2 separate regions of the Homo sapiens genome follow, and region 2 is linked to region 1. The links come from fine-mapping of genetic effects on plasma protein levels. Region 1 holds a variant in brackets. A gene starts in the other region. All regions are shown on their reverse strands. Region 1 overlaps EGFR (epidermal growth factor receptor). Region 2 holds the start of AREG (amphiregulin).

The links. A credible set is the group of variants that fine-mapping cannot tell apart. PIP is the posterior inclusion probability: the model's chance that the variant is causal. The UK Biobank Pharma Proteomics Project read protein levels with antibody pairs (Olink). The fine-mapping took linkage between variants from a reference panel, not from the people measured, so its PIPs are less certain.
Region 2: AREG starts here. The variant in region 1 is the best candidate, but not a certain one, in a credible set for the plasma level of the AREG protein (UK Biobank, PIP 0.53).

Annotation. Positions count from the first base shown.
Region 1 is chr7:55,167,316-55,172,693 of GRCh38, reverse strand. EGFR (epidermal growth factor receptor) reads right to left here. Exons shown (of 28, transcript NM_005228.5): 16 at 1,481-1,519. Among named protein-coding and RNA genes, the nearest start is that of EGFR-AS1, 19 kb to the left of the region's middle. The variant T/C (reference allele first, on the strand shown) is at 3,104.
Region 2 is chr4:74,442,720-74,448,100 of GRCh38, reverse strand. It overlaps AREG (amphiregulin), which reads right to left and starts at 2,965. Exons shown (of 6, transcript NM_001657.4): 1 at 2,695-2,965; 2 at 1,319-1,567. The coding sequence starts at 2,755. RefSeq lists a silencer at 1,498-1,698.

The DNA.
Region 1 (5,378 bases):
ACAAAATATGATTCAAAAAATAACTTAGACTTCAATAATGCTTTTTCATGGATTGGTATTTTGTTCATTCCAAGAGTATTTCCATGCAATTGAAGTGCCATAGTCCATACACATGGACCAGGCACTGCCTCTGGCCAGGCTGGGTGAAGGGACTTTTTGGCAATGCTGAGACTCCTCTGGGTCCTTGGCTTTTAAGATGAGCACATGGATTGTGTGAAATACTCTCTGAACGAGCTTGAAAGGGGTTATAAAGGAATAGGATTCAGACATAGAAAGCATCATTGTGATGAGTGATGTCATCATGCAGCCTCAGACTGTAGGGTGCATTTAATCCTCCCTCCCACAGAGGTCATGTCTAGTTCCAGAGAGAGGAAACCAGAAGCCACATGTGCCAGCTCACTAGAATACCGTAAGATATAAAGAATCATTTGCTATGGAGCGCATATCCATAGGGCGCCACAAGAGTAAGGGCGGGTGAACAGGAGGAGAAGAAAAAGATGGAAAAGAGCAGATGTAAGAAGGAATGGCCATGACTGGTTTCCAGGTGGAGACATGGTGGAAAGCCCCGTGACTAAGATCCCTGAGATTGCAGTGTGGAGTGGGGAAGTTCTGCTGGGTGTCCTAGCAGCTCACTGAAGAGATGGGAGTGGAAGGGGACCCAGTCTTTTTGAAGTTGCCTTCTTCCTCGATCATGTGACACTGGTGGCAGGAGAGAGAGCTATGGCTGTCAACTCGGGGGCGGAGGAGCATGCCAAAATGAAGGAAGGGCAGTGGTGAGGAAGGGACTTTGTAAATGTTACCAGAGATGGCAGAGGGGCCTGGAAGTTTGGTTCATGTTTGGAAACATCCAAAATGGCAAACAGGTGCTCGGTGTATAATTCCATGATTCCTGGCTAGACGCCATCGAGAGTAACACCACTCTTTCCTGGTGAGTTTGAATAAGACTTTTCAACCTTGCTTTTCTCAGGGCTTTGCTCTGGCAAACTGGCCAGAGCTGATGTTGAAGGAAGCCCTTTTGCCTTTGCTGGGCAGTGTGTCTGGGAAAGAAAGCAAGGAGAAACACTCCCCTATGCTGGAGGTTGTCATCGAACAGAAAGGCCACTCACACACAGGCTTGTGATGGGACCAATGGGGTAAGTGGACAGAAAAAAAGAGGAGCTAGAGGCACAGAAGGACCCAGCAAAACCAGTGGAACCAAGGAATTCAGAGGCAGGCCATGCATCGAGCAACGGCGGAGCAGGGAGCAGCCCCAGCACTGTGTGTCCAACTTTCCCTCCACTGAGGACAAAGTTGGCACGTGGAGCCACGTGGAACCAGCTGGGCAGTCTCTGCAGAAACCCTGGCTGAGGGTAGGCTGGCCCAGAGCCATAGAAACTTGATCAGGACAGAGGACAGTCAGAAATGCAGGAAAGCATCTTCACCCACAGCAGTGTGGTCATTCTTGACGAGGTCCATGTGACACAGAGCTGTGAACACTTACCCATTCGTTGGACAGCCTTCAAGACCTGGCCCAGTGCATCTGTAGGAAGTGAAAGAGAAATATACATTTTTCTCATTCTACTTCTTTGGCATATATTTTGGAGATTTTTAATTAAATCATAAAGCAATATATGCTAAACTACTCTTAAATAATTAAAATCACTATGTGTCTGGATGTTGGATTGGTGGTTAATTATTTATTATGCATTTATTCATTTGTTCATTCACTCAGCAAATATTTTTGAGTTTCTACTCTGTGACAGGCGTTGTTCTAGCATTGAACAAAGCAGCCAGTTTGTTATTGAGATGTTTTCACATCTGGCTTTTGACACAGATAATTGTCCCACAGCTGGCTCTAGAATTTCAAACAGAGGGGCAGAAGGAACCAAGGCTAGAAGCATGGACTGGGGCCATGCTAATTACGGAGAAGGCTGGCAGCATGGAGTCCCTGCAGGTTTCTGACAAATTCTGTGCTTTGAACAATCATCTGGCAGCGAGGAGGAAGAGGTCAGTCCTGGGGGTGATGGTTAGCTACTAGTTGGGGTGAGAGGCACTGGCAAAGGGAGTGGAAGGAAGGAAATGGGTAGGATACTCTTGGGAACCTGGCGGCCCACGTGCAGGGGTGGCAGAAAGGAAAAGCGGGGGGAACAGACACGTGAAGGCATGAGGCTCAGTGGCAGGAGGAGGCCGTGATGATCACAGATGCAGAAGGCCAGGCATGGAGGTGGCTGCATCCACCCCAACCCAGCTGAAACTCTGACGGCAGAAGAGAAGGGATCCATCCTAAGCATGACTCCTGAGCAGCTGGGCTCCCGCTCTGGTGGGACACGCTGCCATCATTACTTTGATTACAGGATGATAGTTTAAAAAGGCAGAATAACATGGCTTTGAGACTCTCATTTCCTGGCCTGGAGAAAGATGGACAAGTACATTTCAATATGTGAGAGGCCTGGGGAGCCCTGGTGTAACACTATAATCTGATCCTAACAGTTTCTATCTCTGCTCTCCAGGTCTCTGTTCTCTACACTGCTCTTCTTAATTTGGGGGTCTGGGTGCTCCCTCTTTTCCATGGTGTCATGTACTGCAGTCTTACCCCTGTGGTGCTTTTGAGCTTAGTTCATAAACCAAACACACAGGCTTCGTAGGGGTGGAATATACAGGAGACCTCGTTACTGCCCACCCCACTACCTCCTACAGACACCAAACAGTCTGAGACAGAAAGCAGTCACTCAGGAACAGACCTAATAGCAGTCTCTCCCTGCCTGCTGAATGCAATACAATGGGAACACCCGGCAGAGGGAGGGCAGATTGAAACTGCAAATTTTCTACAAGATGCAGTCTTATGCAGGCTCTGAAAATGCTTTTGGGCAACCATAGGGATTGCTAACAAGAAGCTGTGACAGACTTGTAGGGAAAGGTAGACCAGTTGACCCTTGAAGAGAAGCTGGACAAGGACAGTGGCAGGACGGGGCTGCAGGAGAGAAGGATGTGAGAGCGTCAGAAGGCGAGGGGCTCCTGCTGACGCTGATGAGGCCCTCGGTAACTCTGCAGAAATGACTATTGAGTATGAACTCAAGCAGCTATAGCATGTTATTTAATTCTGTCAGAAAAATTATTCTCTGGC[T/C]CCCACTTGATTCTTTTTTTTTTGGTAAGGAATTTATACATATTTGCAATTATAGCAGTAACTAAACTTTGTTACATATAATTAAAATAGGCAAATTTTCATATTATTTGGTTTATTAGGATAAAGATTTCAAAGCAACTTTCTCCTCACCGTGTACTATGAAAACACAGTTCCATTTAAAAATAGATATTCCTGCTGGGCGCAGTGGCTCACGCCTGTAATCTCAGCACTTTGGGAGGCCAAGGTGTGTGGATCACTTGTCAGGAGATCAAGACAAGCCTGGCCAACATGGTGAAACCCTGTCTGTACTAAAAATACAAAAATTAGCCAGGCGTGGTGGCAGGTGTCTGTAATCCCAGCTACTCGGGAGGCTGAAGCAGGAGAATTGCTTGAACCTGGGAGGTGGAGGTTGCAGTGAGCCAAGATCACGGCACTGCACTCCAGCCAGGGTGACAGAACAAGACTCCGTCTCGACAAAAAAAAAAAAGAAATAGCTATTCCTCCAGGGTTCCTCCCCCTCGTCTGGGTGGCTGCACCTGCCCGGTTGGAAGGTAGGGCTTTTGGAATCAGCAGCTGCTTATGCTGTAGTCTGGGCTCTGATGCTGCTGTTCACAAGTTGTTAAAGAAACCCCTGTAAGTGTTTCTTTAACAATAGAAATGGAGAAGGCAATACATCCCATCTGAGAAATGAGAGAGACAATATATTCAGGAATGTTGTGCACGTCATAAATACTCAGTGAAAGAAATTAAAAAAATTTTCCCTCTCATCAACACTTGGCCGTATTTTAAAAATTAAACCCATTTCTATCGTGTAATTCCTATATAATTAATGGCTTTGGGAGAAGACACAGGTGGCAATAACAAGATTATATCAAACTATATACTCATCTAAAAAGGCTCAGAATCAGGAATGTAATCACACATACTAAAGAAAATATTTATAAAATTCCATATGTCAAATGAATAGTGTCAGGACTTTATTTGAAGCAAAGGGAGAAATTGAAATTGTAGAAAGGAAATGCAGTTTTAGTGGGAGACTAAAGTCAGACAGTGAAGATTTATTAGGACCTGGGAAAAAATAGAAAGACATTAGAAAAATGACCACTAACATTTTTAATTTAAATCTTGACTAAATCCCCTCTTTCTATATTTGGCAAACTATTTCTTATACAAAGTAAGTGTATTGAAAATGCCAAAACCCAATCACTTTCTGGACCTCCCCTAAGCCCAGCAACATATGCTCACTGACACAGAGATACTGATATAGAGATATTGATGCAGAGATACTGATGCACATCTATTCCAGAAGAAAGAAAAGGGGGAAGATAAAACATTTATTCTATACAGATAATATAATTCTGTTTCAGAGGCTTAGCTCCAAAATTGCTTATAGAAATAGATTACGTGAAACACTAGCAAAGCATCTTTTATACCATGCTTCATCGAGCTCACAAAGTGGCCAACAGAGCTGGCATGTTGGTATACCCAAAGGCGAAAATATGAAGAATCTTACATTGTTCCCAGGGAAATATTTGTTAAAATTCAAAATCAATTCCAGATTTTAAAAAACAGTTAAAAACTAGGTATAGGTGAGTACTTCCTTAACTAGATAATTAGTATCTCAGACTAATAGCAAATGTTGTTTTTCACGCTGAGACATTAGAGCTATTCCCATTACCTTTAGATGCCAAGCTCTGATGTCCACTGTCATTATGTCTGATATTATTCTGGAAACTTGGCCCTTATAATATGATCTGATACTTTTGGAAAAGATATTAAGATATCACTGTTGGAGATTATATGATTGTTTTCCTAGAAAGTTGACAAATCATCATCATGTCTCAATCACCGTCACTGCCACTGTTGTTACTCCCACGTCCTCACCACCATCATCGCCACCACCGTGACTTCCACCTCCTCACCACCAACACCATCATCGCCACTACCATTGTGACTCTCACCTCCTCACCACCATCACCACCATCAACACCACCACCACTGTGACTCCCACCTCCTCACCACCATCACCACCATCAACACCACCACCACTGTGACTCCCACCTCCTCACCACCATCACCACCACCACCATTGTGACTCCCACCTCGTCACCACCAGTAACACCATCATCACCACCAACGTTGTGACTCCCACCTCCTCATCACCATCACCACCCTCATCACCACCACCACTGTGACTCCCACCTCCTCACCACCATCACCACCATCAACACCACCACCATTGTGACTCCCACCTCCTCACCACCATCACCACCAT
Region 2 (5,381 bases), not on the chromosome of region 1:
GCGATAAGCACTAACATCATGGACATTTAACTTAGCCTTTCGAAGGTGTTCAGCCAACATTTTCACTCTATTTCACAATGCATTGCAATTTTGAGCACTAGTCATCATTTGTACTACTAATCATTTACTTGGCCTTCTGAAGTGTTAACAACTTGAAACATGTTTAAGAGAACAGTTTCTAGACACCTTGATGGGTCTAATCTCATGCCTTCAAAAATAAGCACAAATGAACCCCTTACCCACCTCACAGAAAAGCACACTTTGAGAAGGAAGGGAATTAAGTGGAGTGTTCGCTAAAGGTTTTCTCACTTCCCACTCACCCAAGTCACTGTCCCTCTGGTACCACTTGATGTCCCTTCACCAGTTCTGAGAACCAGACAAGAGGGGGAGAAGCCAGGGAAACTCAAGTCAGGACAGAAAAGGCCTTCAACAGCTCTGAAACCATCTTGCCCTGCCTCTGTAGTGGATGCTCTTAGGATATTTAGATCTTATTTACTGTTAACTTCTTCTTCCTTCAGACTCCAAAGTATGCAATATTTCTCTCTTACTTTGGTACTTTCACTCCAAGCAAAGGGCCTTTTTAAAATATGAGATAACAGGAAAGTGAAAGAAACCATGGGTTATATAACTAACAAATGGGATTTGGGGTTAAAGAGTGATTTTAGCAATACAAAATCTAAGTATATTCACCCTTCTTTAATATTTCCAGATGGCATTATTATTATTATTCCATCAGCTTCTCATCACCTAGTACTTAAACGCTAAAGTCTAATGCCTCCTGTCCCATTACTTCCTTGTCCCCTTATTTGTGTTAAAATGCAGTTATCTGGGGAAGGGTGGTGTTGGGGAAGGGGATACAAAAGCTAAGATACAAAGTAGATAGGAATGGTTAATGTCTAAATTTGTCTCTCAGAATGGGGGTCATGTAGCATAGTGGGAAAGAGCTTAGTGTCTCTTCTGCATAGAATCAAACAGACTGGAGCTCTAATTCTAGCTCATCTGCTTGTCACCTGTAGAACCTAGAGCAAAACCTTTTTCGGCTTCAGTTATCACATCTGTAAAATGAGGATAACAATTCCTACTTAAAGTCATTGTGAAGATTAGGTTTAAAAATGAGACATACACCATTTATGATCACTCTGGCCATATAGGATGTGCCCACATTATGGTTCTTTTTGTCACAGTTTACCTAGGGGCTATCCAACAGATATACAATAAAGCCACTAGAAAATCTGGGGAGCAGCTTTACTTCTGAAGCAGCTTTGCTCATATAAACCCACATCTCACAGGCCATATTTTTGCTTTATCCCCTACTCACCTCTGACTGAATCATCGACAATATAGCCAGGTATTTGTGGTTCGTTATCATACTCTTCTGAGTAGTCATAGTCGGCTCCCGAGGACGGTTCACTACTAGAAGGCATTTCACTCACAGGGGAAATCTCACTCCCTGAAGACATCTCACTTCTTGAGGTAACCTCAAATCCATCAGCACTGTGGTCCCCAGAAAATGGTTCACGCTTCCCAGAGTAGGTGTCATTGAGGTCCAATCCAGCAGCATAATGGCCTGCAGGGGAGGGAATAAAGGAAGAAAAGAAAAGGTAAAGTAGGGTGCCTTTCGAGTCAGCTGTGTTAGGTAGAAAAGTTTATCTTTTGACATCAAAGCAGTTATTGCACATGTGCTATTGTTTGTGATTGAGTCATTTCTATGAAAGAAACTTTACATTTTTGCCAGCAAGCAAATTCAGCTGTCCCAATTACAGAAGTGCTTTTCTGAAGTTTTTCTTTTCCACAGATAATCCACATTAATTTCCACATCAAAAAAATCCCGCCAAATTGGCAAATTAATCTAATACAATTACTTGATGGGTAATGTCTAAAAATTCCCATCACTTCACATTCCAAATGCATTTCTTTTTTTGCTAGAATGCCATCCTGGCCTATTTCGGTAGGTTTTAGATACAAATATCAGATTTTCTTCAGATGTGTTCATATTTTTAAAAGATATTTTTAAAAGATGTGTTCATATTTTTAAAAGATGTGTTCATATTTTTAAAAGATATTTTTAAAAGATAATCTTTTAAAATAATATAAACAGTGGTTAATTATATCGATTATTATTGTCATTTTTCATTATCATTATTATTATTACTACATAGACAATAAACTGAGTACTAAGTAAGATTTGGGGCCCAGAGTTAAGCCACTGCTTTATCTTGCTTTTTCTTAGGTCTCAATAAAACAGCATCAGAGTGGTGCTTTTAACCTCTCGCCGGGATACTCTAAGTCCCTCTAGGAAGGTAAAGAAGAAATCACTAGACAGAGATGGAGAATTAGGCAGGAGGCAGCAAACACTGCTGGGTCCAATATCTGCGGAAATCACTTCACCTCTCTAGATCTTGGTCTTTTTAATCTTTTAATCTGTGAAACGAAGGGTTAGGTTCAAATGATCTCTCCCGTCTTCTCAGCTGAACTAAAGAAAAAGTACAGCGATTCTCTGGGACACCTTGTCCTGGACGTTTGAGACATCTGCCCTTCTCTTTTCCTCCTAGGGAGGGAGCTACAGTGATCACCTCCTGCGGCGCAGGGTCGGGGGAACTAAAGGGCGATTTTTAGAGAAGCAAGAGCCAAACTCAAGAGGCAAAACCTGCCATGGGAGGAGAGCCCAGCAGTTCAGCGCCGGTGAATCCTCACCTGAGCCGAGTATCAAGAGCGACAGCACCACCGGCGCCGGCGGTAGCAGCGGGGCTCTCATTGGTCCTTCGCAGCGGCGGCGTCTCGGTCTCTGGGGCAACTCGGTCTCTGGGACACGAGCTGCCGCCAAAACGAGCGGGTGTTGGAAGAGCGAGTGGAGACCGGGAGTGTGCGCCGCTCTCGAAGGCTTGGGGAGCTCGGGGCGGCGGGCGCGGCGCCTCGGGCTGTCCCGGGACCTCTGGGGCGCTGGCACCCAGGTGTGCGAACGTCTGTAGGGCGGCGCGCACCTGCCGCTTTATAGGCTCAGCCGGGAGGGGGCCGCAGCCCATGACGTCAAGGCCCGGCCGTGGGTGGAGGCAGGCGGCGCCCCAGAAGGTGCTACCCGAAAACCACGCGCGGAGGACACACGCCCCGCCTCCCTCGTGCGTAAGGATTCGCTGAGAGGAAGTGGAACTTAAACCTCTAGCTGCAAGCCGTTTTTGAGGGCGAGCAGGACTGGAGTTCCGGAGCTAGTACCTGACAGAAGTCCAGATGTTTCAAACTCTGACAACCTCTTTGTATACTTAACATCTACAACAGACAGGGATTAAATAGAAGAGTTCCGTATTTAGATGTAAAAGTACTTTAAGACCAAGAGTGACTTTGCCTGATGTTTCCAACAAGGATAAAGGACGAGAGAACTCAATGAGGAATTGCTTCATGTAGGATGGGCTTCTATCTCAATCAAGAGCCCCTTCCCACCCATTTCTGTGAAGTGGCCAGAATTTCAAATCCCCTCACTCCCTATTTCTTTATGTGGCCCAGGGGCCTCATCAACATTAATATTTATTGATGATTTATTATTGCCAAATTATGCACTTAAAATTTTACCTACACCATCTCACAGCCGATAATGTTCAAAGCCAGGTGGATATGAATTCTTCATCTGACTCTGAAATCTGCTGTTTTCCTCTCTGATGAATTTAGGTTTAAACTGATCCTTGAAAAGAGGGTTTCTGGGAAGAACAATATTTAGCCTAAAGGATAATTTCTACTGGTGGCATACTGGCATTTAGGTGAAGAGTAGTGCTCTAGACTGTGCCTCTCAAATCCCAAGATAAAAAGGTCAGCGTTGAGGGCCCACTTACAACCTAGTAGGATATTTAATCATGACAAGTAGATAAAATGAAGCGGAGACAGGAAGCTACTTAATTTGACTAACTTGGATGTACTGTCAACTAAAGAACTGGATTTTTCTTGACTTGAGGAAGAGAAAAAGCATTGTTCATTTTCCTTCACCTGGAGATATGATTCTTTCCTGATTGTTTCAGTAACACAGCCCTTTTAAGAATGTAGGTCAGGCCAGGCGCAGTGGCTCATGCCTGTAATCCCAGCACTTTGGGAAGCCGAGGCGGGTGGATCACCTGAGGTCAGGAGTTCGAGAGCAGCCTGGCCAAGATGGCAAAACCCCATCTTTACTAAAAATACAAAGGAAATTAGCTGGGCGTGATGGCGCGCGCCTGTAGTCCCAGCTACTCGGGTGGGCTGAGGCAGGAGACTCCCTTGAACCCGGGAGGCAGACGTTGCAGTGAGCCAAGGTCATGCCACTGTACTCCATCATGGGTGATAGAGCAAGACTCCGACTCAAAATAATAATAATAATAATAATAATAATAATAATAATAATAATAACGTGAGTCACAGTGCATCTGTCCTAATTCTGGAAATTTTTTTTTAAAAATCACTTATTTTTAATGGTATATCACAGTGCGTAGTCCAAATAATATCATGCATTTAGTAGAATGAAATAATCATGAATCATGCCTTCTATTCCACATTTGTTGAGAGTGTATTTTGTGTGAGCCACCTGCTTTATATTTTATGAAGGGGAGCAGTATAGGTTCACCAGGAGCTCAGTGGTGTGGGCCAGATACATAGATAAGTAATTCTAATAGATCACATGATGAGAAGGGTTCAGAGTGCCATGGAAAAAAAGGACATGGTTTAATTTTGCCTCTGTTTAATGGAAAGCTCTGTGGAAAGATGAAGAGGCCCCTCAAAGGCCTTCCCAGCAAATCTTTTACATGGAATAAAGACCTGATGTGAGGGTATGACCAAGTATGGGAAATAAGGCTAGAAAAGTGTCATGCCCATTCCAAAGTGAAGTAGGGGCCTGCACTGTTATCTGTTCTGGTGGATGAGGCAATTGTGATTCAGAGAGATTGAGAGACTTGCCCAAAGATTTCAAAAGATTCTTTTGGAGACTTTGTTTGGAGCTCACGCAGTTGGTCTACACTGTTGCACCTTTATGCTCCCATAGGCTTCATTTCTGTTCTAGGCCTGTTCTTCTCTTTTCTTCTTTTTTTTTTTGATTGACAAGTAACTTCATATTTGTAGTATATGACATGATGTTTTGATATATGTATACAATGAGGTTAAATCAAGCTATTTAACATATGCAATACTTTCCATTTTCTTACTCTTCTTATTGAGATGAAAACACATTGTGCAGATCAGTCATCAGAAATGTTTCACTTTTGGGAAAGTGGACTGTTTATATTGGAAATTGCTTAGTCTTTTTCCAGTTGGAAATTTATAGGGTGAACATTTACATGATCTAGGCACATAACCTAGATCATGGGGACAGCATAGCTTAGTGCTTTGGATGAGCTTTAGATTCAAACCAATGTGGGTTTTCATATACAAAT